Homo sapiens: one gene and its partners. The protein of the gene in region 1 interacts with the protein of each later gene in a pairwise test. Each region holds a gene or a part of one and is shown on either strand. Other genes may lie near its edges. The genes, in order: ODF2L, PRSS23, PIPOX, PCNT and CEP126.

Region 1 (5,033 bases):
GTGAGAGTGCCATCACTGCCCTGTTACCATTGCCCACACTGAGGGGACGGCGCCAAGGGCGTCAATGTTTGTCCTAAAGGCCCTTTCTCCCATAGCTTCAGCTCACACTGGCATCTCTCATGCATAATTGTGCTTGGAATATGTACAGAAGAAATCTTTATAATAACTTAGAACCGAGTTCATAGGAATTAGGTTGGAGGACAGTCCTTTCCACTAGCTCCTTGTTCCTGGATCAGTCCCTGCCTCTACTCTCATTCTTGTGGCTCCAACCCAGCATTCTTACAAATAGGCTTCCTTAGAAGGAAACATATCTGATTCCTTAGATGAACATAACTAAGCTAGACTTCCTGCTAAAATAAGTAACCAGAGAAATATGAAAATTCAAATTCAGACCAGTTTGGAAGTGAATGAATGAAGAACCAGTCTCTGTGTTTGTGTGTGTGTGTTTGTAGGAAGTGTGTATACCAATTCCTGCTCCCAATTCTATTAATCCAAGTGTATAATGAGTATTTAACAAGAAATTTCTATGTTCCATCACTGCTCTTAACACCCTGGTGAATATAAATGCTATAAAAATGGTAATTGGTCTCAGTCTGTTTTTAAAATATACTGTTGGAGAAAACACCTACCTAAGTCACGGAGCAGTGAAAATGTATACATCTCTTCCATCTCAAGCCAATTTTGCAGATATTTAGTGCTGCGAAGATAAGTATAGTATATACTTACGCTATATATGCTTCTTCAAGATAGAACATCTTTAAACTTGGATATAACATACAAGTAATATCTGTTTAGAAAAAAGGTACAATATAACTGTCAAGGCTTTAAATCATATTTTAAAGAAAGCACTTTATTTTACTCTTTTGATAAAAATTACAGGTTGCTGAAGAAATAGAGAAAATGTCATCTAGAGAGAGTGCTTTACAAATTAAAATATTAGATCTGGAAACTGAGCTTAGAAAGAAAAATGAAGAACAAAATCAACTTGTTTGCAAAATGAACAGTGTAAGTATTAGCATGGCTTAACATATTATAAAAGATAACATTTAACATTCTTACCATGTAGAAAATACAAAGTGAGTGAATCAAGTCTATTGTTTTACTGATAATATTAAAAATAACAAGCAATATAAGACATAACAAATAAAAATGTTATGATATGCCAAATAATTTATTATTCTGCCTCTTTGGATGGCATGTATTGCATTGCCATCAAATCTCATCAGGCACTTTCCCTACATATTACTTTTGCAATGACATCTGCTTAATGAAAATTACAGATATAATCTACTTGATTTCATCCTGATATGAATTTTTCATTTTTTAAAGATAAACACAGTGTAAACTATTATTACAAGTGAGTTTTATATCTGTCTTGAATAATGAATATTTTGTTTTAGAAAGTTATAATTTTGTAGTAAACATTCAGTATTGTTAGATATACATGTGAGATGGATGCTTTAGTCCACTCAGCCATGAAATGAAAATACCAAAGTGACTGTGCTTAATTAGTCTTCTGTTTTTTTTCCTGAATACTCATGAAACAGTCAATTGGCATAGAATATTCTGAAAGCTAGCATTACTCATGATTAAATTACGTAATAACTGTCTACTAGATAATGACATAGAGAATAATGATACTGTGTTTTTTCCAGGATCCAGAGACTCCATGAAATCTATTTTTTTAATTCCCAAGTGTCTAAAAAGTTGAAAACCTAAAAGATTCAAGAGTTAAATGATTTTTGGCATGCACAATTTGATTTTATTGCCATCAAAAGTTTCATGACAACTTAGTCAGAACAAAACGTCGATCACCTTTAATTTAGCACAGGCCTTCCATTTATTTCTAAACTTTTTTTTAACTCACCATTTGACTTTCTGATATTGTAAAATGTGTGTGCTGTTTTTTTGTGTAATTGAAGCCTCTGAAAAAATAAATGAGGTGGGTTTTGCTGTAATGTCCCTAGTACTTGGCTAAAGCTAGTAAAATAAATAGATCCCATTCACAATTGCCACAAAGAGAATAAAATACCTAGGAATCCAAATTACAAGGAATGTGAAGGACCTCTTCAAGGAGAACTACAAACCACTGCTTAAGGAAATAAGAGAGGACACAAACAAATGGAAAACATTCCATGCTTATGAATAAGATGAAACAAGATCATGAAAATGGCTATACTCCCCAAAGTAATTTATAGATTCAGTGCTATCCCCATCAAGCTACCATTGACTTTCTTCACAGAATTAGAAAAAACTACTTCAAATTTCATATGGAACCAAAAAAGAGCTCACATAACCAAGACAATCCTAAGCAAAAAGAACAAAGCTGTAGGCATCACGCTACCTGACTTCAAACTATACTACAAGGCTACAGTAACCAAAATAGCATGGTACTGGTGCCAAAACAGATATATAGACCAATGGAACAGAACAGAGGCCTCAGAAATAACTCCACACATCTACAACCATCTGCTGTTTGACATACCTGAGAAAAACAAGAAATGGGGAAAGGATTCCCTATTTAATAAATGGTGTTGGGAAAACTGGCTAGCCATATGCAGAAAACTGAAACTGGATCCCTTCCTTACACCTTATACAAAAATTAACTCAAGATGGATTAAAGACTTAAGTGTAAGACCTAAAACCATAAAAACCCTAGAGGAAAACCTAGGCAATACCATTCAGGACATAGGCATGGACGAATACTTCATGACTAAAACACCAAAAGTAATGGCAATAAAAGCCAAGATTGACAAATGGGATCTAATTAAACTAAAGAGCTTCTGCACAGCAAAAGAAACTATCATCAGAGTGAACAGGAACCGACAGAATGGGAGAAAATTTTTGCAATCTATCCATCTGACAAAGGGCCAATATCCAGAATCTACAAAGAACTTAAACAAATTTACAAGAAAAAAAACCCCATCAAAAAGTGTGCAAAGAATATGAACAGACACTTCTCAAGAGAAGACATTTAGTCAGCCAAAAAACATATGAAAAAAAGCTCATCACTGGTCATTCAGAGAAATGCAAATCAAAACTACAGTGAGATACCATGTCACACCAATTAGAATGGTGATCATTAAAAAGACAGGAAACAACAGATGCTGGAGAGGATGTGGAGAAATAGGATGCTTTTACACTGTTGGTGGGAGTGTAAATTAGTTCAACCACTGCGGAAGACAGTGTGGCGATTCCTCAAGGATCTAGAACCAGAAATACCATTTGACCCAGCAATCCCATTACTGGGTATATACCCAAAGGACTATAAATCATGCTGCTATAGAGACACATGCACACGTATATTTATTGTGGCACTATTCACAATAGCAAAGACTTGGAGCCAACCCAAATGCCCATCAATGATAGACTGAATAAAGAAAATGTGGCACATACACCATGGAATACTATGCAGCCATAAAAAAGGATGAGTTCATGTCCTTTGCAGGGACATGGATGAAGCTGGAAACCATCATTCTCAGCAAACTAACACAAGAACAGAAAACCAAACACCGCATGTTCTCACTCATAAGTGGGAGTTGAACAATGAGAATACATGGATACAGGGCAGGGAACATCACACACCAGGGCCTGTCAGGGCGTGGGGGGCTAGGGGAGGGATAACATTAGAAATTCCTAATGTAGATGACGGGTTGATGAGTGCAGCAAACCACCATGGCACGTGTATACCTATGTAACCAACCTGTACGTTCTGTACATGTATCCCAGAACTTAAAGTATAATAAAAATTAAAAAAAATAAAGATCTGATGTTTTGTTAAACCTGATAAGTTTTGTACTAGTAAAATTCTAGAATTCTAAGCATAGATTTAAACATTGCTGAAAAATGAGTTTGTGTGTTTTATGCCTTCCAGGGGACAGTTAAGTGGGCAGTATTTATTTAATATACCTGCTTCAGCCCCATTTGAATTGTAAGCACTCTGAAAGCATGTCTCATAGTCGTCTGTATCCCTGGTGTCTCCCACAGTGCCCTGCTTACCTGCAGGCCTTTTTGTATTTTCTGTCCAAGTACCCTAATAGGGTGGTGCAGAATGGATGTACAGATCTGTGGATGACCTCAGCAGCTTAATCCAAGGCACCCCTCGGGAAGCCTGAAATGTCTTTGAAGTCTTATGTATTATCCTAAAATCCATTGACATTTTATATTCTACCCTACAAAATAAGTATGTGTTACTATTTTTCTTTCCAAATTGTTGAGTAAAACTCATTGTATTCATCCTGTGACTTTGTACTGCCCAGCCTAGCTCATTGTTTTTTACCTGCCTCATTTCCTGAGCTGGGCATTGCTCAGTTTCAGAAGGTATCAGGTGTCATTGAACACCTGATATGAAGGATGTAAAAGTTCTCTCTTTTCTATCTAGGTGTCTATATTTTAATTGGAGGCTAGATGATATTTGCAACCTGTCTTTATCTAAAGCATTGTCAGTGAACTCACCTACTTAGGAATTCATATGCACCTTAGTTAAAAAAAATGTATTGTGGTTTTAAATTTTTTCCTCAACCAGTGTAATATGAAGAATTCTTTTTATTTTTTAAGAGATTCTAAGAAAATGTTCACATTATCAAAACTAGAATTCTATCAACTTTTAAGACATTTAATTATTTTGGAATAAAATGTGAATTTTTAGACAGAAAATGGCAAAAACTAGTATGAAAATATATCATGTTACATGTGAAATTATGACAGTTGTTAACCTATTAAGTTAATCATGTTAAATATGTAATAATTTGGGGCTAAATGAATGTATATTATAAATTATATCAGTGAAGATCAACCATGTGTGTGCTTTAATTATTAATTTTAAAGAGTGAGCTCTAAGAATGAACACATCAGATGTGAGTATTATTTTAAAAAATCAAAAAGAATTATCTAGTTATTGTATATATGTTTTTAATATTATGACTCTGGTCCTTTGGAATGAATGCTATTATTGCTTATCTGTATTTTTTTCCTTTTTTCTTTAGAAAGCACAACATCAGGAAGTGTGTTTGAAAGAAGTACAAAATAGTCTT
Region 2 (6,637 bases), on another chromosome or scaffold:
TCAATATATATTTGTTGGATTGAAGTGACTCTAATACAACTTGAGCATGGTTGATAAATCTCTCCCTTCTTCCCTTCCTTCCAGCTGCACCTCCAGTTCCTCTATTAAGATACTTACCTTTTAATGGTGTTTCTTCAATTGGGAGCTACAGACACTTAGAGATCCTCAATTTAATCTTTAAAATTTTTATAATAAAAGATAAACACATTCTGGATCATTGGGATGACCATCTCATGCCAAGTACTGCCTCTTGATTGCAGCACCTGTGTGTACTAGTCTTTGGCAGCAAGAGTTACCACTTCACTTGCTATGCTAATAAGAGAGAAACAGCACAAATACCTAAATAATGTATTAGAGTCAAGAGAAACCCATTGCAATGACATATGGTGTGGGCAAAGGAGATATGGTAGATGGAACGAAGGAAAGAGGTGAGAGAATTGAGTCTGCATTGGGCACCTCACACATCATGAGAGTGGCAGAGCCACAGGGAAGTCAAAGGTACTGACGCCTCAGCTGTCAGTACCATGCAATGCTGATAGTAGTCCAGGAAACGTTACTAATTTCAATTTTATTATTCTGGAAGAAAATTTTTATAAATCTGTTTTGGTTTTATTTGCGAGTTGTTCAAAAGCTGTAACATAAGTTTATATCTGGTTTTGTGTCTGTGTGTGTTTTGAGACAGGGTCTTGGTCTGTCACCCAGGTTGGAGTGCAGTGGTGATCATAGCTCATTGCAACCTCCACCTCCTGGGCTCAAGCCATCCTCCCACCTCAGCCTCCCAAATAGCTGAGACCACAGGCGTGTGCCACCACAACTGGCTAGGTTTTTTGTATTTTTTATAGAGATGGGGTTTTGCCATGTTGCCCAGGCTGGTCTCAAACTCCTAAGTTCAAGCAATCTGCCCACTTTGGTCTTCCAAAGTGCTACGATTACAGGCGTGAGCCACTGAGCCTGGCCTATGTCTCTATATATTAATGTGACATTTTAAAAGAAAACAATTGAAGCTAAGCTAAGAAAAATTTGCCCTTAAAATGGTGGAAAATATCAGTTTCCTTTCTATTTAAGAAATACCAGGCCGGGAGCAGTGACTCACGCGTGTAATACTTGCTGAGAAGGGAGGATACTTGAGCCCAGGAGGTCTACGCTGCAGTGAGCTATGATCCTGCTACTGCACTCCAGAATGAGCTACAGAGGGAGTACTTGTCTTGAAAATAAAATAAAAGAAAAGACCACACAATAATGTGTTCAGGGCTTTCTCATGTAAAAGTAATTGCAAACACCAACGTATTAGGCATATCAGTAACACCTTGGTGTGAAATAGCACTTTAGACCTTCCCTTTCTGAGAGTAGACTTTGATAGGAGAAAGGAAAGCTAAGTAGCTTGATAGAAAGCATGGCTCAGTGCAAAATCTTGTCCTACCATTCAGTAGCTGTGTGATTTTGGGCAAGTCATAAAACCTCTCCAAACCTCCTGTTCCTTATAAAAATTAGTGTAATCTCTGCACCTTCTTCACCACAATGGCCTATATGTAAAGCTCTTGACCGAAAACGCTCAATACACAGTAATCTATACTAAATAGGAAGGCTCTAACACTAGGACCTTAAATGGCAAGGTCTCCAGCCTGGTTAGGAGAGGACTCCCCGCACACCCCCCTACCCTGGCCCCCAACCACCACCACCAAGATAACGACCGCTTGGAGTGATTCAGGGAAGTAGGCCCACTGGACAAGGAGGTGGCTCCACCAGCTGGTGCCCCGATGAAGAACTGAGGCCAGTGGGCTCCCCAGCCACCGCCGCTCAGAAGCTGCCAAGCACCCCCGGTGCTTTGGGCCCCACGCACAGCACTGAGTGCTGTAAGGAAATGCAAAGCATTGGTGGCCCTGCCATGGGAATACAGGTTTCTGTTCTTTGGAGGCACCGGAGAAACTAGGAGTTCGGTCAGCACCTTAAGGCGCTAAAAGTGTACGTGGGGGTGGGGCGCACACAGGTTCTGAACCAATTCTTCAAATTTGCCCAGGGCTCCCCATACACCAGGTGTGGCCCGCGTCCCTAGTTCTAGGCTGTTGGGGGAGGGGTCGCCTTTTGTAGGGGACCTGGTCTTTTTGCGAGCTGGCAGCGTGCTCCCAGCAGCGAAGGCCGTAGTCTCGCTCAGGAGGCCGCGCGCCAGACCCGGGGATGCGCGGTGTTCAAAGGGTGACGGCGCGCGGGTCCCGGGCAGGAGAGCCCGCCAGAGCCGGTGCTGCCTGGCGCCGAGAGGCCCGGACTGGCGACTGCTGCCGCGCCACCGGGGCCCACCTGCGCAGGGACGCTCGGCCTCAGGCCCTCTGGGCTGCTCCACCCTGCTCCGGCCGCAGGCGAGCGGCGAGGGGAGGGGGGCACGGTTTATGTGCAGTGGGGCGGGCGGCGTCCGCGCGGCTTCCCCGAGGCCGGAGGCGGGGCGGGCGGGCCTCGGGTGGCGCGGGGGGCGGACCCGCCAGCTGCCTGCGCTGCTCGCCAGCTTGCTCGCACTCGGCTGTGCGGCGGGGCAGGCATGGGAGCCGCGCGCTCTCTCCCGGCGCCCACACCTGTCTGAGCGGCGCAGCGAGCCGCGGCCCGGGCGGGCTGCTCGGCGCGGGTGAGTGCGGGCACCGACTGGGGCATCCGCCCGGGCGCGGGAGAGGCGAGGCGCCGGGAGGAGCGGGACAAAGGGCCGGGTATGCGCGGGGTAGGGTAACTGCGGGCTGCCGGAGGCACCGCAGGACTTCGCCAGGGCAGTCCTCGGGGTTCCAGGACACGGGCTGGGGGCCTGAAGGAGCTCTGGGGAGACGGCGGGGGCTGCAGGTCATTTGGATTCATGCAGTGTCACCCATGAAACGGATGGGGAAAGAAGATCCTGCTGTCTTGGGTGCAGGATGTTGGTTGGGAAGCAGAGAGAGCCGGCTCTCGGCAAGCTGTCCTTCGGCGGGGGCGATGGCTACACCCCCATGCACCCCCCCAACACACCACCACCACTACTTCTTTTCCTTGAGTTTTGCATATACCGGATTCCATCAAGTTCTGAATATTAAGTTTTAACCCTGGGCATGTGATTGTGAACACACCTAAGCAAGCAAGAGAAGTGCAAAAGTGCAGCAAATACAGGCTGGGAAATAGAATCTTTTCTCCGGAGTGGTTGTCCGTGTGCGTTCCGGGGGTGCTAACCCTAGACACTACAGTCTGAACTAACAACAGTTGTTGTAAGCAAATAGTTCTTCTGCCTGTAGGCATTCATCACGAGTTAACTTTTAAATAAAAGTTTTAAAGTTTTAAAAGGAGCGGGAGAAGACTTGTTCAGATGAAGGAACACCACCACTCCTCTCCAGAATACAAATTAGGTTTGCTTTCCAGCACCTCAGGAGAAAGCAGCTGATAAAAATCCTGTTTGTTTTACTGCCCACTGGGTGACACCAGTAAGAATTAAGCAGCTCAGTGTAGGTATTGGAATAGGGCTTGCTTCTCTCAGCTCCTGAAACTAAATTTGAGGGCTCCCTGTGCACTCCTTAGGAACAGGTAGGCCAGTGCCAGAATCCTCATCACATGGTCATGTGAGAAAGAATTGAATTTATAGATGAGGTCAGCTGTGGTCAAAAGCCCTATGTCAAAGTAGTATCAGGATATTTATTGCATGTTGTTTCAAGATCCTACTTGTGCATGCGAGTATTTGTGACAGGTTTATAACCGTGCCTACCATGAAGTCTGTCAGGAGTGGATTGGAGGTGAAGTGGGGAGAAGGAACTTAGAAAATGCCCCCAGAAGCCACTATGTTTATTTGTGAAAGTGTTTGCACCCCATCTGCGTACGAAAAGGTTGTTTCACTTGCAGTTTTCCTAGTTAAATAAAGTCAAGCGGTAACTTGTCCTTTCCTGTGCCTGAACTGGGAAGGAAGCCTTTTTCCAAGGTGCCTAATATGGATCTCATTTTTGTAACACTGACGACTTATTCAGCTGGATGGTTAACATGGATGCATTTTCTGGTTGTAGCATAAGTGTCCATTAATGCATCTGAGAACATTTTTGTCCCCAGTCTGCAATGGTTAATAGTCTCAGGTTCTCCCAGTAACTCTTCTCATAGATCCCTTAGGATTTCATCCACCAGGCATTATTCATGCCTAACTCCCACAGACTCCAGGGAATTTGTTTCTCATGTTCTCAATATTAGCAGGTTTTTTTGCACTCTGTTCTTGTTCTGCCAGGTTTGTCCCAGGCTCAATTTAGTTTACCTGAAATCCGATAGAGAAGAGGCTAAACTTCATTTGACCACAAGATTGTGTTTAGGGTTGCTTGGACTTGTAAGTGCCTTGTAGTTTCCTGTACAAGACTGTAATTCTTAAACGATTATGTGATTAGGTCTGTTTTGCCTTAATAGGGTCTGTGATTCAGGAAAACGAGAACAAGCCCGACTGCAGAGTATTCACAGAGCTTGGTTCATTCTTAAGCATTTGCTTTAGGATTTAGCATGATTTCACCGTTCCATATCACTGACCACTGATTCCATGGAAGACCCTTTGTCATCTCTCCAAATGGTGTCCAAAACCTGTATCTTTGCAAACTTTCCTGCCGTTTCTTTCTGTCATTACTGTTTATAGCGGCTGCAGGAATTCACAATTTGTACAATAGAGAATACATGACCTAAGGATTAGGTTTTCCCTCCCAGCACTTGTTTGCTATAGGAGTTAAATCATTCTCTCAAACAGTGGCCCTCTTGAGGAGACCTGTGTTGTTGCAGTTTTCAAGACTAAGGTGCCGTGCAGGAGACAGTAGTCACTGCATCCAGTCTCCAAAGAGATTGTTGTTTGCATATCTGTTAATTATGCAAAGTCCCACCACCAAGGGCCTATGAAGTGGCAGCATCCTCAAAAAGTATAAATATTTTCAGACAGTGGCTCATATTGAGTGATGGAGGGTGGACTGTGTAACCTATTTATGAATCAGATACCCAAAGCTGGAAAAGGAATAGTTTCTGTATTACTAAGCATGGTGAAAAAATATTTTCTTACCTTCATTTTCCATTCTTCCCTGCCAGTTAGGTGAAATGATGCACGGAAACACTTGGTTGGAAACCTTAAAAGATAATTTATGTATACCAGGAATCTTTATTCAGCAAAAGTTTATTCCTAGAAATGAAACGTTATAGACCTAAATTTTCTTCATCCAGACTTAGGTAAAAGGGTGAGATTTGAAAATCTTCATTCCATTTTTAAGGTGTGAGTCTTCCAGGCAGCTCTGCAAGGATAAGGTGATTCATTTATAAGGGTGAGAGAGAATTTAAAATCATGTAACTCATTAGTTACCTTTCCAGGTGTGGGATTATGAATGTTTTCATTACATCTGTTTATACCTTAGATGAGTGTTTATGTTTAAGTAAACTTAAACAGGTATAGCACAGGCTTACCCAGGGTTTATACAGATGGTAACAATAATTATTTGTCTTCTAAGGAATTACTCCATTATCATGTGAGTTGAGAAATGAATGTAAATCCACCAACCTAATTTTAAAGCATCACAGTTTTGCATCATTTGTTGTTTTATTAATGCGGATGAGTCAGGGCAGGCTGCGAATGCCTCAGGAAAGACCCTTAATGGACAGGAGGGTTGTTTCCCCCTCAGGCTTTTCTTTGGGGCCTGTCTTAAGAGCATACACACACAGCCATCCCTCCACTCAGTTCTTGAAAGCTGCCTTCTGCTGGAGTCACAATTTGTACAATAGAGAATATATGACCTAAGGATTAGGTTTTCCCTCCCAGCACTTGTTTGCTATAGGAGTTAAATCATTCTCTCAAACAGTGGTCCTGTTGCAGACTGATCAGGGAAATCTTGTCTGCCAGATAGATGAGAAATTAGCATGATTCATTTTCCTTTTCCTTTTCCTTTCCCCCTCCTTTGCCTCCACCCTCCATAATTCCATGAATCAATGGTCCTGAGAAGTAAATGATAGTACAGACACTATAGTCAGCATCGTCCCTGACCTGGACTTACGTGATTCTGGAAAATTATAATATTAGGGAATCCTGGACCTAAAGACCAGAGCTAAAAAGACCAGCTAAAGCAATCATCTGGTTGAGGATGCTATTCAGAAGAATTTCTAAAGCACCCTAAATAAACATTTGGTAAAGGACTAAGCAACTTAAGAAGCTTGTAGCTTTAATACAGACATCAGTTTAAACCCATTTAAGGGCTTGAGAACCCACAGCTGTATCTTCTAATTTCTGATTAGATATTTTAAAAATATCTAAGCCTAATCAGTTTGAAGTAATTTGATGGGCATTAGTTTCTAAAAGTCTGCATTCATTTCTAAATCTGAATTAAACTTTTTTAAATGCAATTTTATAACTTTTAGCGTTACATGGAAGCTTTAAGCAAGATATATAATGCTGTCAGAACAAAGTCTTATCACACAAGTTAGTAAATAGGGTTTAGTAATGTGGAGAACTTGGAAGCAGAGTTGCAAACTAATAGAAATTAGGACTTATTAAGTCTCTGAAAAATTTATTCTTCAAAGTTAAAGCTTCACACTGTCCTGTTGGGTTAGCAGTTTGTTTTTTTCTTATAGATGGCTGGCTTCTCCTTCACTCCTGGCTAAATGAACAGAATTCAAGTTGTAAGAACTCTGAATTAGTAAT
Region 3 (6,040 bases), on another chromosome or scaffold:
GACAGGATCTCACTCTATTGCACGGGCTGGAGTGCAGTGGTACTATCATAGTTCACTACAGCCTCAAACTCCTGGGCTCAAACAGTCCTCCTACCTCAGCCTTCCAAGTAGCTGGGACTACAAGTGCCACCACACCTGATAGTTTTTAAATTTTTGAGAAGACTGGGTCTTGCTATATTGCCTAAGCTGGTCTTGAATTCCTGGGCTCAAATTATCTTCCTGTGCATAATCCTTCCCCAGATTGTGTGGAAATATTTGAAGGATAAATGGCTCCTGGTTGACAGCACATGCTGATATGGCTCTTAACAGGGGATGCAGTGTGAGGGGTAATGGCTTCCATCATCTCTCTTGTTTTCCACTTCCAGTTCTTTCTACCACACTCCCGAGGAAGCTCCCATGGACAAAGCCGGATAATCCGAAAGGCGTACCTGGAAGACTTTTACACCCGGATGATGCATGAGTGCTATCAGATATGGGCCCAGCTGGAGCACGAGGCTGGAACCCAATTGCACAGGTGGGCTGTGGGAGGAATTCCTTGAATCGTGGGGCTCTGCACCTGCAGGTACTTTTAGTGTGTGAAGTGGCAGCGCCATGGAACATTTGGAATGCAATGGGAGGGACACAAGGCCTCAAGAAGTACCAGATGCATGGAAGAGTTCTGCTGTCATGGTGGTCACCCCACAGGTCCAGCTGACTCTGGCCAGGCTCTGCGTTGCAGGACTGGGTTCAGACCATGTGTCCAAGGCTAGCAGAAGCAGTACTGGAAAGCCTGCTGGCAAGGCACCGTGTGGCAGATGCCCAGAGTGGACAGGAGTCTGCTGGAGTGTGTATTTTCAACTCTGTGGAGGCCTCTGCAACTCTTTTAGGGCAGGGGTTGAGATAGAGGAGGAGGCTGCTTTCAGGAGGATTCTTTTTTTTTTTTTTTTTTTTTTTTTTTTGACAGAGTCTCGCTTTTTTGTCAGGCTGGAGTGTAGTGGCGCCATCTTGGCTCACTGCAACCTCCACCTCCCGGGTTCAAGTGATTCTTCTGCTTCAGCCTCCCGGGCAGCTGGGACTACAGGTGCGCACCACCACACCCAGCTAATTTTTGTATTTTTAGTAGAGACAGGGTTTCACCATGTTGGCCAGGATGGTCTTGATCTCTCGACCTCATGATCTGCCCTTCTCGGCCCCCCTAAGTACTGGGATTACAGGTGTGAGCCACCGTGCCTGGCCCAGGATTCTTTATAGTCAAATCAACATCCTAACTTTTCCTGAGGGGTCCTCACCCCCTTTAGCAGCCCTATAAACCCATTTTGTTCTCTCTGAGTACCTTTTCCTGTAGGAACAAAATGGGGACGTTCCCCAGGCTGGATTGCTTGCCAGGGAGTGAGCCTCCACGTCTTTCTCTGCTGCCTTCATGGCTCTCTCCAACCCTTGACCTTTCAAACACTCATGGGAAAGAAAGCCAATAATCTGTGATGCAATGGGAACTTTAACCATCCCACCTCCCTCCCACCTCCTCTGTGACTCTTAACTGAACTTCCTACAAACCCTGGCTCTACCTGATAGGGTGGTGGTTATTTTAATGGCCAGGAACCAAGAGGTTAGTGTTCTGTTGCAAAAATACCATTAACTTAAGAACAAAGTGAAATCCATTATGCAAATCAGCCAGGGCAGCTAATTACAGATTTATTCAGAGGCAGCTAATGCACCCAGCACCCAAATAAAGGAGCATGTCTTGCTGGTGGGTGGCCCGGCAGAGGGACCCCTCTCTGTCAGTTGTCTGTGAATACTGCTGAGCATCTTTTGCTAAAAGAATCGCCCTGGGCCTCAGAGGGCACACTTCCTCCTAGCACACAATGAGGCAACTAAGAGACGTTAGAGTGTCTGGAATCTTTCCGAGGGAGACGATTCTGGAGTGAGACAGGCTTAGGTTTGACATTGTGCTCTATTCCACACCAGTTGTGTGATCTTGGAAAAGTTTCTTGACTTCTCTGTGCCTCACTTTTTACGATAGGGCTCTGAGAGGATTAAATGAGACTTTTGTGAAATACTTGGCCCAATGTCTAGCACCTTTCAATAAGGGGCAGTCCCTTATTGACCCATTCTGGGTCAGCTGCATTCTGTTCCATTGAGCAACAGTGGGAGGAAAGGCAGGAGGAGACAGATGGGTGCAACAACCACAGATACCAAGGGGAGTGGCAGCAGGAAAGAGGGAGAGGGATCCTTGGGTAGGAGACTCTCAGAAGCGCACAATCCTCCTCTTTGCCAGGAGGACAGGAATTTGGACGGGCTTTGGAACTGGACCTGGCTCTAAATCTCAGCTCTGACACGCTCAGCTGTGTGGTTTGGAACGAGCTGTTGAACCTCTGGTGAGACTCAGCTTTTTTCATCTGTGAAGTAGGGATACTAATACCTGTGTCATGGTGCTGGGGTGAGGATAAGTAGGTAATGGGCTTAGAACAGCACCTGGAAAACCATCTTCCTCCTCCTCCTCACCATATATGTAGTGTTTACAATAAGAAACTAGGCTGGGCATGGTGGCTCACGCCTGTAATCCCAGCACTTTGGGAGGCTGAGGCAGGTGGATCACCTGAAGTCAGGAGTTAAAAACCAGCCTGGCCAACATGGTGAAACCCCGCCTCTACTAAAAATACAAAAAGTAGCCAGGCATGGTGGTGGACACCTGTAATCACAGCTATTAGGGAGGCTGATGAGGCAGAAGAATCGCTTGAACCTGGGAGGCAGAGGTTGCAGTGAGCCGAGATCACGCCACTGCACTGCACTCCAGCCTGGGTGACAGAGTGAGACTCCGTCTCAAAGAAAAAAAAAGAAAAGAAAAGAAAAGAAAAAACTAAGAGTTGCCTAAGTACCTGACACCTATAACTCATTCCATTCTCCTCACAATCTTATGAGAGGGTTGCTGCCGGGTAGTCAGGGTCTTATCCCATTAATGCAAATCACAGAATTACTATACTCTTAAGTCTAGAATAGAGGTTGGCCAGCTTTATCTATAAATGGCCACGTAGTAAGTATCTTAGCCTTTGCAGGCAACGTGGTCTCTGTTACAATTATTCAACTCTGCCATTGTAGTGTGAAAGCAAGATGTAAATAAATGAGCCTGGATGTATTCTAATACAACTTTATTTATAGACACTGAAATTTGAACTTCATATAATTTTCATGTGTCACTCAACATTATTCTTCTTTGGATTAAAAAAAATCAACAATTAAAAAATTTAAAAACCATCTTGGCTCATGGACCAGACCAAAACAAGCAGAAGGCCAGATTTGGTCCCTGAGTGGTAGCTTGCTGGCCCTGGGTGTGGAAGATACCTCAAACTGGTTAACTTGTCCATTTCTGTCTCCAAATAAGTTCATGCCTAAATCATCCCAGGTCAAAAGACTGCTACTATGCATTTAAAGACAGGGAAATATCACAGCCCTTCTTAAAAGACCATTCTGATGTCTCATAGCCCCAGTTACGAAAAATGAAAAGTAATGTGAATATGCTTTAAAAACCTCTAGAGTGCTAAGTATTCTTACTACTATTGTTATTATTCTATTATTATAAGTCCTTTCTTATGGCTAACCTAATGTACTCAGGCACACCAATTTATTTGGTTCTTTTACTTAGCAGGGACACAGAGCAGATACTTCCCATTCTCAGAATGGTATCTGAATACAGCTCTACTACCTTTGGGCTAAAAGCCATTCTAATTCCTTTAGCTTTTACTGATTCTTATTTTCTAAATGATTCATCATCTGTGTGGTTCTTACTTTTCCCCAGGTTTTTCTAGAAGAACCAGCACAATACCATAATACTACTGATAGATATGAGCATACTTAATGCTATTTGATGATGATTAAAAAAAAACCTTTAGGAGTTGGCAGTTCAGGTGGTTGTCCAGTGCTTTTCATTCTGTTTAGCTGCTTCCTGTGACAGCGGCATACTAAACATGGGTGGGTTTGGGACATTTGCATATATTCTGGGAACAGACAATGACACATGTGTCAGATCACAAGGTCTGAATCTTTTGTGATGTGTACAGCCAGGATGCTGATTCCAACAGCAAAACCCAGCTCCCTGGCCCATCTCTTTCCTGCCCCGCCTTCTCCCTTTGAGTCCTACTGTCTAGCTCCTGACCTGGGCTGCCCCTGCTTAGCTGACAGTATCAGACAAGATCACAGCCGTAGGCAGTACAGCTGCTGGCAGAACCTGGTGGCCCCCTCTGCAGCTGCTGTTTCTTGTGTCTGCGAAGTGTCTGGCTTGTCAGCCACATCCCCTCCCTGGAGCAGTCTTTGTTAACCAATTCCACCTCGGCCCACTGAACGGAAGATGAAATGCCTAGAGCTCCTCCAAAACCAACAAAGGCAGCAGCCATTACCAAGTCCCCATTCGAATCCCTTCCCCAAGGTGACTCAGAGCTGGCTTGCTGGGCATTTTTAACCCACAGAGGGGAGAGCTGAAGCTTGGGATGGGAGATGGCAGGTGCAGGGAGAGCCGTCTCCTCTCCCAATTCCTCCCCACTCCATCCTACACCCTGTCCTGCTACAGTAACTGGTGGAAATCCCTGATCACCAACTCCCTACATCATATCTGAGGCATTAGTCGGGCTATAGCAGAGTCAACAAGGCCCTCGGGAGGAATCTTCAATTACCTCTTCCTAGTGCTGGATCAAGCTAGGGTCAGGAGGAAGGAATAGTTCATACTAAATGCTCTTGACTCAGCTGATGGGCATTCTGGGAGGTGGGAGCTGCACTCTTTTCTAGGGTTCCCTGGCAACCCATGTGCTGGCTTTCAGTCCTTCTTTGTAGCTAGTCCTGACCATTCATTTCCCGGTCATTTTTTATCCTGCTGATGCCCTTGTCTCCTCTCACCCTTCTCCTTCCCAAACTTACAGCCCAGGTCTAAGCAGAAAAAAAGAAGACAGGGAGGCCACGAACACAGGGGTGAGAAATTGATGCAGAATGAGCAGTCTATTTGTTGGTATCTAGAAAAAGCCATTAAGAAAATAAGCACTTAAATGATTTTCAATCTGCCCATGGAAGCCATCCATCTTCATACTGGGAGGAAAAGGCCCATTCTCCAATCCCGGTTTTGACTGACTGGTTTCCAATTCTCTAAGCATTTCCCATAGGAGCCTCTCACCTATCTCCCATAATCACAGGCCTTTGCATTTCCAGGCAGTGTTTTACATTTATTTCCGATTTGCTCATAATGGTCAAAAATCTCTCTCCAATCCAAGGCATTTCTCCAGCAGCGCACGGTTTCCCTCAGGCCAAATAGCTCAGCTGTGATCCACGGAAAATGAGAATTTCCCAAACACATCTTCGGACTAGGGGAGGGTCTGGCATCACACATTCAGATGGAAAATTTCCCACTGTTATATCAATATCTGGGCTAAGAAAGAAATGCCACAGGGGCAGAGAGCTGGAGCAAAATGATTACAATCGGCACAATTACATTCACCGGCAGAATCAGCTCGCTGATTACTCCCAGGGATGGGGAGCTCCCGCTTCATCCACCACAGGATGGCTTGGGAATTAGAACATCACTCAGCATTTCATAATTCAACAGATATGCCCGTTGTCTTGGCATGAGTTCATTTTTCCCACATAGTACATCCCTGTAAGAGGAGTCATTTCAAGGAAAGAAGGAAAGAAGGAGGAAAGAAAGGAGGAAGAAACAATGGAAAAAGGGAAAGGAAATCTCAGAGTATATGAGAGGCCAAAGCTGGTATATTGCAGGCAGAGATTAGAATATGCTGCTCTGGAATTTCCAGGTCAGGGATTTCACATTACATCTGCTTAGGTGTGGTTTAAGCCAGGTCTGTCCCAGAATCCCTCCCAGCCAGGACCCCATTGGGTAAAAAGGACTCAAGGAAATACACCTGAGTGACTTCATACTTATTTGTTGAGTAAGAAGTTTACTAGGGCCGGGCACAGTGGCTCATCTTATAATCCTAGCACTTTGGGAGATCAAGACAGAAGGATCGCTTGAGGCCGGGAGTTTGAGATAGGCCTGGGCAACATACTGTGTGACTCTTGTGTCTAC
Region 4 (6,040 bases), on another chromosome or scaffold:
GCATGGTTTTTTGGTCATTTTATTCCTTGAAACTCCATAATATGTTCTTTTTAAAGATGAATGGCATTTGAGGCCTTAGAGAAAATACAGATGATGAACTTGTCTTCAAGAAGTCATGTGTATGAATCTCTCACCTTCTAAAACTAAAGATTTAAGGGCACCTTTGTATTACAGAGGAACATCTTGACTTTTAATGGGTTTCGTGCCACAAAGAACGTGCTGAATTTCTAAAACTGTTTTTCCCCCTAAACACTGTGCGGCTGTGCCTGCTCCCTGATGCCACAGAGGTGTTTCCCAAGGCCACGCGCGGGCCTGTCTGGAGTAGCAGATGCAGCAGAGAGCAGCTAGGAATCCCGCTCCTTTCAGAGACCAGGTGCCGAGCCAGTTCAGTCATCGCGGCTGCAGGCTGGGCCAAAGTGGGGTGCAGGCGAGGCCTCCTGGGTTGCTGTACTCTCAGCTTCTCTGGTCCTGGGGCACTTTGTCTCCTCGTCTCTGAGCTCCCCTGACCGTAGGCCTCCACCGTCCATCCTTCCACCCACCCATCTGTCCATCCTGTGTTCATGGGGAGAACACCCTGCAGGAGGAAGCATTTTAGGCACTAGATAGGGGAGGTAAGCAGACCCAGATCCTACCTCCTGTCGAGGAGGGGAGATCTTTTGAAGGCAGTGGTGTCCCAGAAAGGAGCAGTCTCTGTGTCCCTGTGAGGGCACTGCCTAGGGTAGCTGCCACCAAGGGGCCTTGACAGGTCTTATGGAGGAATCGGCAGTGTCTGCTATGCCTCAAAGGAGGGAAGCCACAGGCATGATGCTTGTTCCGAAGGCCATCCTAGCAGGGCGTCTGGGGCCCTGCACACTGACCTGCATGCCCTCGTCACCTGCACTCTGCATGCTCACCATCTGACGGACTCCTGCGAGGGCTGGGGTCTCCGTGTTCTGAGCCTGTCCAGTGGCATCTGTGACAGGATGAAGATGGGAGGGTCCTGCACACCAGGCGGGAGCGGCATGTGTTTCCTAGTCACTGGTGTGGCCGGCTGACTTTGAACTGGAGTCGTCCTGAGCTGGGCCATGGTGGGTGTCTAGGGGACCATATGGTCCACGGTGGGGCCGCAGTGAGGCTTTGTCAGGTGGTTGGGCATGGGAAGGTCGCCGCCGCCGGCAGCCCTGCGAGCACTTTGGATGTGTGCACCCGGCATGCCAGGCCCGAGTCAACAGACTGGCCGACCTTGGCGTCCTGGTCCCCATGGGCAGCGAGGCCCCCATTCTGCTTGTTTGGTCACAGTGGGGTTTTCATTGCTCTTTCCCTTCCTGTCTTGCCGTACTTTTAAGTGTGTCTTGTCTCTTTTTTTTGTAGATTACGTTTTTTGGTTAAGAAATGGCAAGAAGTAGATCGGAAAGGAGCTCTGGCACAAGGCAAAGCCCCTCGCCCAGGTGGGACTCCAGCTGCTGTTGACCGCTGGACTCACAAACCTTTCTTTCTACTCTTGTTTTTCATTCACTTTGGGTCATTTTTCAGTGTTGATGGGGACGTAATAAAGCACGGTAAGAAAATCCGTGAATTCCGTCAGAGCAGTCGTCCAGAGGGAAGGCGCGCCCGGCGTAGGGAGGTCAGAGCTCATGTTAGCTATGAACACAGGTCACAGGGGCGTACGGCGATGGGAAACACTGAGATGCTCAATATATTGATTATTTAATAGTGTTTAGCAAAATGGTCTTTTTTTATTCCTTAAATCAACTGAAACTCACTTCACGTCTCTTTCCTTGTAGAGCATCATGCTTATTTCTGGCTCACTCACATCTTTGTCTCGGGAGTTCTCTGCCGAGCCATTGCCCCCTACAGCAGAGAGCACAGCTGGCTGCACTAGTGCTGAAGGAGCCAGCCCCAGAGCAGGGCATTTCCAGGGGCTCTTGTCCCAGAGCGGCAGGCGTTGTGTGCAGAGAACGCCCCTCCCACGCAGCACAGAGAACGCGGGGTGGGTGTGTGGCTCCGGGCCTGTGGGGCTTAGGCTGCCTGAACCACCGCCGACTGGCACCATGACTCGGCATTCCTGGAAGTGCCTTACCAAGTTGTTGTTGTTGTTTTGTTGTTTTTTAAGAGACGGGCTTGCTCTATCATCCAGGCTCGAGTGCAATGGCACAGTCACAGCTCACTGCAGCCTTGAACTCGTGGGCTCAAGCCATCCTCCTGTGTCAGCCTCCCCAGTACCTGGGACTGTGGGCATGAGCACTGCGCCTGGCAGCTGTATCAGTGTTGACTCCACATTTTAATAGTTGCTTCTTGAAATTAAAATGCTTTGATTCAGCCTTCAAGCCATCAGGAAAGTTTGCCCCTCTGAGTCACACCTGGTGGTCTCCAGGGTTCCTGCCCCTCCCTCCTGAGCCAGCTCCTCAGAGCGGATAGAGGCAGGACCCCCACCCAGGTCTTGAGACCCCCCTGCCCCGCACTCCCCCGGAGACGGGCTACCCCTGCAGATGCAGATAGTCAAAGCTCAGGTTTCTTCCAAAGCTTTTAAAAAGATATTGTACCTTGAGCACTTTAAAAATGTCTTAAAATTGCCATACAGGCTCTTAAAAGCTTATACGTTTAAACTGTTGATAGATGGGCCTTTACTAAAATGCATTCATTTATTTTCCTAATCCCTTGGTTGTTAAATAATTCTGGGGAAGGGCCCCGAGCACGACAGCCGCAGTCTCCACCCAGAACCAGAGAGTCCCCCCCAACCCGGGATGTACCCTCTGGCCACACCAGGGACCCTGCCAGAGGCCGCAGACTGGCAGCAGCAGCCTCCCCACACAGTGGGGGAAGGTCAGTGTGATGCCTTCAGGCCCCGTCTCCTGCCAGGGCTCTCCCTCCAGCCTACATAGGGCCTCAGAGAAATGCATTTTTAGTTCTGGCTTTGGCCCAGCCCAGGGCAAGGCAGGAAACTCTCCAGCGTGAGTCCGTGAGGGCCAAGAAGTCCCGCCCTGTTCTGGGGGAGGACCTGGCTTTTCTGGTGTCTCTGGTGCCCGAGAGCCCGGTGCTGCCATCTTTAGTGAAAGAGTAAATGGTGGCCGAGGGCTCCTTTTGTGAGGGATGTGCCTTGGTGAAGAAGGCATGTTCCCTGCCGTGAAGATACTTGGAAGCTCTGGGTGGAGAGGGAAAAGGGATACCCCTGGTGCTCCCTGGGCCTGGCGGAAGGCTAGGAGGAAGGACAGCTGAGGTGAGGACTGAGTGGGGCAGGTATCACCCTGACAAACAGTTTGGGAAGATCAGGAAAGGCAGGTGAGACCTGGTGCAGAATCCAGGTTGGGTAATAGATACATCGTCGAAGATGTAGCAAGCAAAGTAATATACTCAACTCTGGAACATTGCACAGAAGCTTTTAAAGCACTCTGTGACACTTTTTGTAATGAGGGATCTGAAGGAAACGGCCCCAGAGTCACCCATCCCCACGGGTCTGGTTGGCGGGGCTGGTGCCTTTCTTCTGCACTCAGTCACCATGGCTCCGTCTGTCAAACTCAACTCTTTTTTTTTTTTTTTTTCTTCTCTTGGTGTGGTAATTTGTTTGAAGAGCCACTCCATCCCCAAATTCAAGATTAGAAAGATCCCTGACTGCTTCTCAAGATCCAGAACATTCCTTGACAGAGTATATTCACCATTTAGAAGTGATCCAGCAAAGATTGGGAGGGGTACTACCAGGTAATGCAAGTCCTCGCCGAGTATTTATTAAGCTGATTATCACTGTACCCTGGAAACGTAGGGTCTGTTGAAAGATGGCTGGTATTCAGCTTAGTAACCAAAGTTTCAGTCTGAACAATCAGTGTCACTAATAGTATTAGAATAGAGGCTACAAGTGAAGAATCTCACAGAAGTCTAAGCCAGTGTACTCAGTGATACGTGCTGAGGTCAGTTTGACTTAATCACCGTCTGGACTTTTTTGTCCTTTCTCTTACATTGATAGCGAACATAAAGATTATATTTCGACCAGGATATAATTTGTTCAGTGTTTCTTAAATATCATAATTTAAACCACTGTATAATTCATATTTTTACCAAAATTTACATGAATTCAGTGATAGTGTTTCAAAATTGTGGAATTCTTTTCAAAAAATCTGTGAAGCCTTGTAACCAATTTGCTGCCTCATTTTTATTTATATGCAGATTCTACTTCAAAGAAATCCTGCCACCCGATGATTAAACAGTGAATAAAATGTCATGGCTCTTTCCTGCGACAATTCTATTTGAGGAAAAGATTTGTTTTTCCCTTTTCCCAAGGAAGCTCGTGGGACAGCATGGGCACTACTCTTCATGTGCGGTGACACCAGCCCCCAGATGCCTTGAATTAAGTGTCCTCACCTTTATGCATGACTGCAAAGCCAGCTGGAGCATTTTCTATGGAGCCTCCGTATGTTTTAGGCCCATGACCTTCGTGAGGTGACGGGCACTCACTCCCATGAGCCCTGGCTGTGTGCTGTTGTGTGCCTATCGGCAGATCCATCCTTCCTGCCTCCAAGGAGGATACACAGAGAATGGCTTCCTGTTGTTTTGTTTATTTTCTTAACGTGTACAGATGGAAACTTCATTTAAAAATAAAAACAAAACAACTCAAAAAGGAATAAAATTTAATCACTGTTTTGTTTGTGAATAGCCCTTGTGTTGTTTTTTTTTTCCATTTTATCCATTTTATCAGTTTGCCTTTCTCACTGACTAAAAAATTGAGCAGAGAGTTTATGTTAAACTCGTAAGTCAAAAATTTTCAGTGGAACCCGGAGCATTCTTGAATAGCCACTTGACTGTTGTTTACTCTTACTTGGTTTCTTATTTTTTTAAAGATGCTGCCACTATGTATCCACCTCTCATGGCCATGCTTTTTGTTTTTGAGATGGGAGTCTCCCTCTGTCACCCAGGCTGGAGTGCAATGGTGCAATCTCGGCTCACTGCAACCGCCGCCTCCTGGGCTCAAGCAACTCTCCTGCCTCAGCCTCCTGAGTAGCTGGGATTACAGGCGCCCACCACCAGGCCCAGCTAATTTTTGTATTTTTAGTAGAGACAGAGTTTCACCATGTTGGCCAGGCTGGTTTGAATTCCTGACCTCAAATGATCCATCCTCCTCGGCCTCCCAAAGTGTTGGGATTACAGGTGTGAGCCACCACGCCCGGCTGGCTGTGCTTTTTTATGTTTCACTCATACTCGCTTAGACTAGACAGTAATACCTAGCCAAGGACCCTTTATCCAAAAATGTACTAGATGGGTATAATTTTTTTATTTTTAGAGACAAGGTCTCGCTCTGTCACCCAGGCTGGAGTACAGTGGCACAATCACAACTCACTGCAGCCTTGACCTACCAAGCCCAAATGATCCGCCTGCTTAGCCTCCCGAGTAGTTGGGACTACAGGTGCGCACCACCACGCCTGGCACTAATTTTCGTATTTCTTTTAGAGACAAGGTTTCACTTTGTTTCCCGGCCTGGTTTCAAGCTCCTGGCTCAAGCAATCCTACTGTCTCTGCCTCCCGAGTAGCTGGGAGTACAGGCACGCACTGCCACATTGAGCTAGTTGTTTTTTGTTTTTTTTTTTTTTTAAGTAGAGATGGAGTTTCACTCTGTTGCCCACACTGGTCTTGAACCCCTAGCTTCAAGTGATCCTCCTGCCTTGGCCTCCCAAAGTGCTGGGAATACAGGCTCAAGACACTGTGTCCAGCCCTAACTTATAGTTTATTGAAGGAAAAATAAATGAAACCATGAGGAAAAAGATGAACATGGGCTATTCTACAGTTAACTGCCCTCGTTTCATCAAAGACAATGGGACATGAATGTGAGGAGCCTGTTCTAGCTTGAAGCCAAGAAGCTGTCAGCCGGGTGTGGTGGCTCACACCTGTAATCCCAGCACTTTGGGAGGTCGAGGTGGCCAGATCACAAGGTCAGGAGTTTGAGACCAGCCTAACCAACATGGCAAAACCCGGTCTCTACTAAAAATACAAAAATTAGCCGGGTGTGGTGGCAGGCCCCTGTAATCCCAGCTACTCGGGAGGCTGAGGCAGGAGGATCACTTGAACCCAGGAGGCG
Region 5 (5,816 bases), on another chromosome or scaffold:
CAAATGATTAGTGATGTTGAGCTTTTTTTCATATGCTTCTTGGTCACATGTGTGTCTTCTTTTGAAAAATGTCTGTTCATGTTCTTTGCCCACTTTTTAATGGGGTTGTTTCTTGCTTGTTAATTCATTTTAGGTTCCTTATAGATTCTTGATATTAGGCCAGGCATGGTGGCTCATGCCTGTAATCCCAGGACTTTGGGAGGCCGAGGCTGGCTGGTCACCTGAGGTCAGTAGTTCGAGACCAGCCTGGCCAACATGGTGAAACCCTGTCTCTACTAAAAATACAAAAAACTAGCCAGGCGTGGTGGTGTGCACCTGTAGTCCCAACTACTCAGGAGGCTGAGGCAGGAGAATCGCTTGAAACTGAGAGGCAAAGGTTGCAGTGAGCCAAGATTGCACCATTGCACTCCAGCCTGGGCAACAAGAGTGAAACTCTATCTCAAAAAGATTTTTTAAAAAGATTCTGGATGTTAGAACTTTGTCAGATGCATAGTTTGCAAATATTGTCTCCCATTCTGTAGGTTGTCTGTCTACTCTGTTGATAGTTTACTTTGCTGTGCAGAAGCTCTTTAGTTTAGCTAGGTTCCATTTGTCAATGTTTGCTTTTGTTGCAATTGCTTTTGATGTCTTCATCATGAAATCTTTACCAAGGCCTATGTCCAGGATGGTGTTTCCTAGGTTATCCTCCAGGGTTTTTATAGTTTTAGGTTTCATTTAAGTCTTTAATCCATCTTGAGTTGATGTTTTTGTGTATGGTATAAGGAAGGGGTCCAGCTTCAATCTTCTGCACATGGCTATCCAGTTATCCCAGCACAATTAATTGAATGGGGAATCCGTTCCCCATTGCTTGTTTCTGTCAACCTTGTTGAAGATCAGATGGTTATAGGAGTACAACATTATTTCTGGGCTATCTACAGAATATAAACATTTTTATATTCAGAGTATTTTCATCAGTCATGGGAGCAGAAACAGGTATTAGTGTACCAATCTTCAAATAACTTTAGATGTGTATCCTAATTGAAAAACTGCTAAGAAGTGTACATCGGTAAGTATCCATATCTTTTCTGTGTCTTGAGAGTTTTTTTTTTTTTTAATTATACTTTAAGTTCTGGGATACATGTGCAGAACATGCAGGTTTGTTACATAGGTATACATGTCCCGTGGTGGTTTGCTGCACCCATCAACCCATCATCTACATTAGGTATTTCCCCTAATGCTATCTCTCCCCTAGCCCTCCACCCCCGACAGGCCCTGGCGTGTGATGTTCCCCTCCCTGTGTCCATGTGTTCTCATTGTTCAACTCCCACTTACGAGTGAGAACATGCAGTGTTAAAACTAGACATTACTGAATCTTTTTTTTTATTTTTTGCCTTGGCACTGGGTTCTGGTAAAAATGATCTGGAACAGCACTTTTCAAACTTTAGTGTACTTTGTACCACCTACAGATCTTGGTAAATACATTTTCTAATGTAGTAGGTCTGGGATGAGACTAGGTAATACCAATGCTGCTAACTAACTTTGAAACACAAGTTAGTTCTATGTGAAGCACTAACTTCACATAGAAACATGAACATGGATACACATTGGAATCACATGGAGAGCTTTAAAAAATACTGATGCCTGGGTCATACCTGAGGGCAGCTTGGGCATTTAGATATTTTTAAGCTCTCTGAAGAATTCAAATGGGAAGCGAAGGATGAGAAACACTGGTCTAGAAACAGTGATGACAAACAAGAAAGTCACCTACCCTTCCTGGTCCCCTGTCCTTTGTCCATCTGGGAGTTCGTGGGGAAGGGGATCAAAGTGTAGCCTGCACTGATGAGGAAAGCCAGTGAAGTAGTCAGTCCAAGTACCCTCTCCCATTGACAGTACTGGACATACACTGACAAATTCTTCTTTTGCTGGACTTCTCTTAGTCACCAATCTATCAATAAAACAGCAGTACTACATAAATGTTGAATTAACTATTATAGTCAAGAAAGAGATTTATGAAATACTTTCATGTCTCTGACAAATTTTGCTTTGCTTCTCATTTGCATTGTATAAGTGGTCTTCCATTTCTTCTTCCGTTTATTAAATATTAAGTACCGTCTATGTGCCAGAAACTTTGCTACATTCTAAAAATACATCATGAGCACAAAATAGCCAACTTTGCTAAGGCTAGGATTCACATTTCTCAGTTAGAAATTTTGGCCACAAAAGAAGAAGGCAGAAGTGGTCAGAAGCCATTATTGTTAGAAGATCATCATGGTTAGTCAGTGATGGACAAATACAAAGGTGCCCAGCAGCTCACTCCTCTCCACTCTATAGCATCTTCATGACTACAGGCCCTGCTGACCAACAGCAGCCCTAGGCCGACCACCAGGCACTGGGCTGCAGACCTGAAGACAGTAGCTTCAGAAAAGCAGAGTCGTTCCACATTCGGCAGTTTCCATAGATTTCCCCAGCAAGCTCCCCCTTCATAGTTCCACTTCAGCAGCTTGGGCATGCTTGGATTATCAGATTTCCCTGCAAGCTTCAATTTGTTTACCCACACCAGTGCTTCAAACAGCCTGCTCAGTCATCCTTTCTCTGATCCTGACTGGCACGCCACAGTAGAGCAGGCTACATTTTTATCCCTTGCCCCATATACTCTGATCCTTCAATTTTCCTTTTCCAGACCCTCATTTTCCCAGCTCCTATATTTGGTAAAATGTAATTCCTGTGATAAGTACCTTAGTCCCATAATTCTTATAATGGCTTTGTTTTCCTGATGGATACGGTCTGATAGAGGAAACATAAAAATAAGCGGTCTCTTATAAATCAGTGTAAAAAGCACTAACTTCACAGGCATATGAACATATGGGAAATGAACAACATTCTGAGTTCTGAAAAAAGCTTCAGAGTTAGCCAAATGAATATTATTTCAGAGACTGAAAAGGAGAAAGGAACTTCCAAGGACTAAATGAAACAGATTCAGGATGAAGAGGGAGAGAAAAAACTGGAGAGGGAAGCAGGGGCTAATGTTCCCATAGGTTTCCTTCTGGCGTGCCTAACTATGTGGGTTCCAGGCCCTTTCATCATTAGTTCCGTCGGACATTGTTTTCACAAGCTCACCCCCAAGAACTCCCATTTCTGCTATACAACACTATAGAGTTTTATTGGTACCCAGAATTTATCTAGAAGAAAATTTTAAATAAAGAGCTTTAAATGCAGGTTCAAATAAATTAGAATTTATCATTTCACTTTGAACCCTGAATTTTTATTTATTTATTTATTTTTGAGACGGAGTCTTGCTCTGTCACCCAGGCTGGAGTACAGTGGAGCAATCTCAGCTTACTGCAACCTCCGCCTCCCAGGTTCAAGGGATTCTCCTGCCTCAGCCTCCCGAGCAGCTGGGATTACAGGCACGTGCCAGCACACACAGCTAATTTTTGTATTTTCAGTAGAGACAGGGTTTTACCATGTTGGCCAGGCAGGTCTCGAACTCCCGACTTCGTGATCCGCCTGCCTCGGCCTCCCAAAGTGCTGGGATTACAGGCGTTAGCCACTGTGCCCAGCCTGAAACCTGAATTTTTAATGATATTGTAAAACTGCACATTTTCAAAGTGGGAATTTTACCTTTTAGAGTAGAAAGGTACTGATGAACATAATGTAAGGGTTGAGGTAAATAATCTATAAAGTCCTCTGCAATCTTAAACTCATTACCTGGGAGAATGATGTCAGGATGTGTTGAATATGCCACTATTTGACATGTCAGCCTAGTTTGTAGCTGCAGTGTTTTGGCATGTGTTTGCATGCTTGTTTCTTCTTTCTGATTTCCAGGAGAAGAGAGAAGATAGAACCAGCAGCTGCAGAGACAAGAGATAATTCCAGCAGAATCCGTCTAAGAAGACCTTTCATGTACTTCCCTAGGACTAGATGCATACCGTTTTGTGAAAACCAGCCATAGGAAAACATGTGAGCAACAACCCCCATGAACATTTGTCCTAACTCAGATTTTGTGAGCAGTGAAGTTTAACAGAGCAGTGACATTTAACAAAGCAGTGAAGTTTAACAGAGTTCTGAGAATACCATGAAAGACATTATGCCTGCCTAAACAAAAAGCAGGACATAACCTAGCTCTGAATACATGCCACAAGGATGAAGCTTGTGAGTAGAGCAAACAAACGTTTTTCCAAAGAATTCACAGTGCTCCTTTGCAATTTATAGATTTCATGTTGAAATATATGTTAAATAAAATTTCTGTTTATTGAACCTCTTTATTAAACCTCTAACTTACTGATAAGATGTTTATGAAGTATGGCATATTTTGATTTTTTTAATTGTAATAAATATTCTTAAAGTTACCACATCCCACAAAATGGCCCTTGGTGGCAGCAATAGAGCAAAGGTTACCTTTTTGTATGGTGAAGGGAGGCCTTCCTATGGCTGTACAATTACATCGATTCTTCCAAATTTCATATTTCATACATGGCACTTTGGCATACCGAAAAAACATGAAATTTTTCATTAAAATGCCATGAATCAAGCCAGGGCCGTTGGCTTATGCCTGTAATCCCAGCACTTTGCAGGCCGAGGTAGACAGATGGCTTGAGCTCAGGAGTTCGTGACCAGCCTGGGCAACCCTGTCTCTACAAAAAATACAAAAATTAACCAGGCATGGTGGCATGCACCTGTAGTCCCAGCTACTTGGGGTGCTGAGGCGGGAGGATTACTTGAGCCCAGGAGGATTACTTCAACCTGGGAGGTTGAGGCTGCAGTGAGCTGTGTTTCGCCACTGCACACCAGCCTGGGTGACAGTGTGAGACCCAGCCTCAAAAAAAAAAAAAAAAAAGTGATGAATCAAAATTAGAAATTAAGAGTTTTAAGAAAACATGTGGCCTTTTATTAATAACACTACTAAATTTTGGTTCCTCCATAGAATTAGTTTTGAAACACTTGATGTAGTGAGAAATGCATTAACATGTTGAATGCCTACCATGTACCAAATTTTGTGCATATATTTTTTATTTAATCTGACCAGCCACCCAAACCATGGGTATTTTTGTCTCCACTTTAGAGATGAGAAACTGAGCCAAGGCCACATAGCTACCTACAGTGACAGAATCAAAATTCAAACTCAGGTTTATCTAGTTCCAAAACCCATGTTCTTTCTGCCACACCATGTTAGTAGAAATGGAAACTATTGGATGAAATGAGGAAAAACAGGAAAAGAATTCACTTTTTAAATGAAGAAATTAGTGAAAAAATTGACCTAATGAAGGAAACATTTGTGCTTTCCTATATTTTTAATTTTAAGAATAGGATTTCGGAAGGCGACAGAAAATTTAGTTCTTAGACATTTAAATAGAAAGTTGTGTGCCCCTATAGAAAATATTTGAGAATTTCTTATACTATCAAGAAAAAATTCTGTGAATTAAGATGTAATTTATAAAATAACATTTCAATGGGGGTAAACAGGCCAGAAGAGTGTGCCAAGTTGTTTGTGAATCATTCCAAGCACCTCAGATGAAAACTCACTTTTATTAAAAAAAAAAAAGACAAGGGTTTATATTCATATACACTAGTATATATGTACACAGCAGCATCCTGCATGCCAAAGTAGCTTCACCGTTAGTAATCCCTCACTTTAATACCTCTTAGGAACCAAAGAATGCCTCTACAAGCAAAAAGATAGTTGAAAATAGTTAAGATCCAAAGTCAGAATAGGCCAAAAAAAAAAAAAAAAAAAGCCTAAATAGTAAGCTGGTGAAACAAGATAAGATTTGCATTTTACTAGAACTTGCACATTATGATATTGTCCTTTTATGAAACTGTCATATGACCAGAATTCT

What was found.
Region 2: the proteins of ODF2L (region 1) and PRSS23 interact in a two-hybrid assay, tested with the Homo sapiens proteins (one large-scale study listed by BioGRID and IntAct).
Region 3: the proteins of ODF2L (region 1) and PIPOX interact in a two-hybrid assay, tested with the Homo sapiens proteins (one large-scale study listed by IntAct).
Region 4: the proteins of ODF2L (region 1) and PCNT interact in a two-hybrid assay, tested with the Homo sapiens proteins (one large-scale study listed by BioGRID and IntAct).
Region 5: the proteins of ODF2L (region 1) and CEP126 interact in a two-hybrid assay, tested with the Homo sapiens proteins (one large-scale study listed by BioGRID and IntAct).

The regions. Positions count from the first base shown.
Region 1 is NC_000001.11:86,348,831-86,353,863, reverse strand, and holds part of ODF2L (protein BCAP), read left to right. Parts: intron 1-879; coding exon 880-1,005; intron 1,006-1,655; coding exon of another isoform or gene 1,656-1,673; exon of another isoform or gene 1,674-3,763; intron 3,764-4,985; coding exon 4,986-5,033. UniProt on the Homo sapiens protein: Acts as a suppressor of ciliogenesis, specifically, the initiation of ciliogenesis.
Region 2 is NC_000011.10:86,798,038-86,804,674, forward strand, and holds the start of PRSS23 (serine protease 23 precursor), read left to right. Parts: upstream 1-2,504; 5' UTR 2,505-2,614; intron 2,615-6,637.
Region 3 is NC_000017.11:29,044,494-29,050,533, forward strand, and holds part of PIPOX (peroxisomal sarcosine oxidase), read left to right. Parts: intron 1-365; coding exon 366-514; intron 515-6,040. UniProt on the Homo sapiens protein: Metabolizes sarcosine and L-pipecolic acid.
Region 4 is NC_000021.9:46,441,147-46,447,186, forward strand, and holds the end of PCNT (pericentrin), read left to right. Parts: intron 1-1,350; coding exon 1,351-1,427; intron 1,428-2,663; coding exon 2,664-2,802; intron 2,803-3,547; coding exon 3,548-3,675; intron 3,676-4,137; coding exon 4,138-4,181; 3' UTR 4,182-4,623; downstream 4,624-6,040. UniProt on the Homo sapiens protein: Integral component of the filamentous matrix of the centrosome involved in the initial establishment of organized microtubule arrays in both mitosis and meiosis. Plays a role, together with DISC1, in the microtubule network formation.
Region 5 is NC_000011.10:101,993,795-101,999,610, forward strand, and holds part of CEP126 (centrosomal protein of 126 kDa), read left to right. Parts: intron 1-3,804; coding exon 3,805-3,849; 3' UTR 3,850-5,816. UniProt on the Homo sapiens protein: Participates in cytokinesis. Necessary for microtubules and mitotic spindle organization. Involved in primary cilium formation.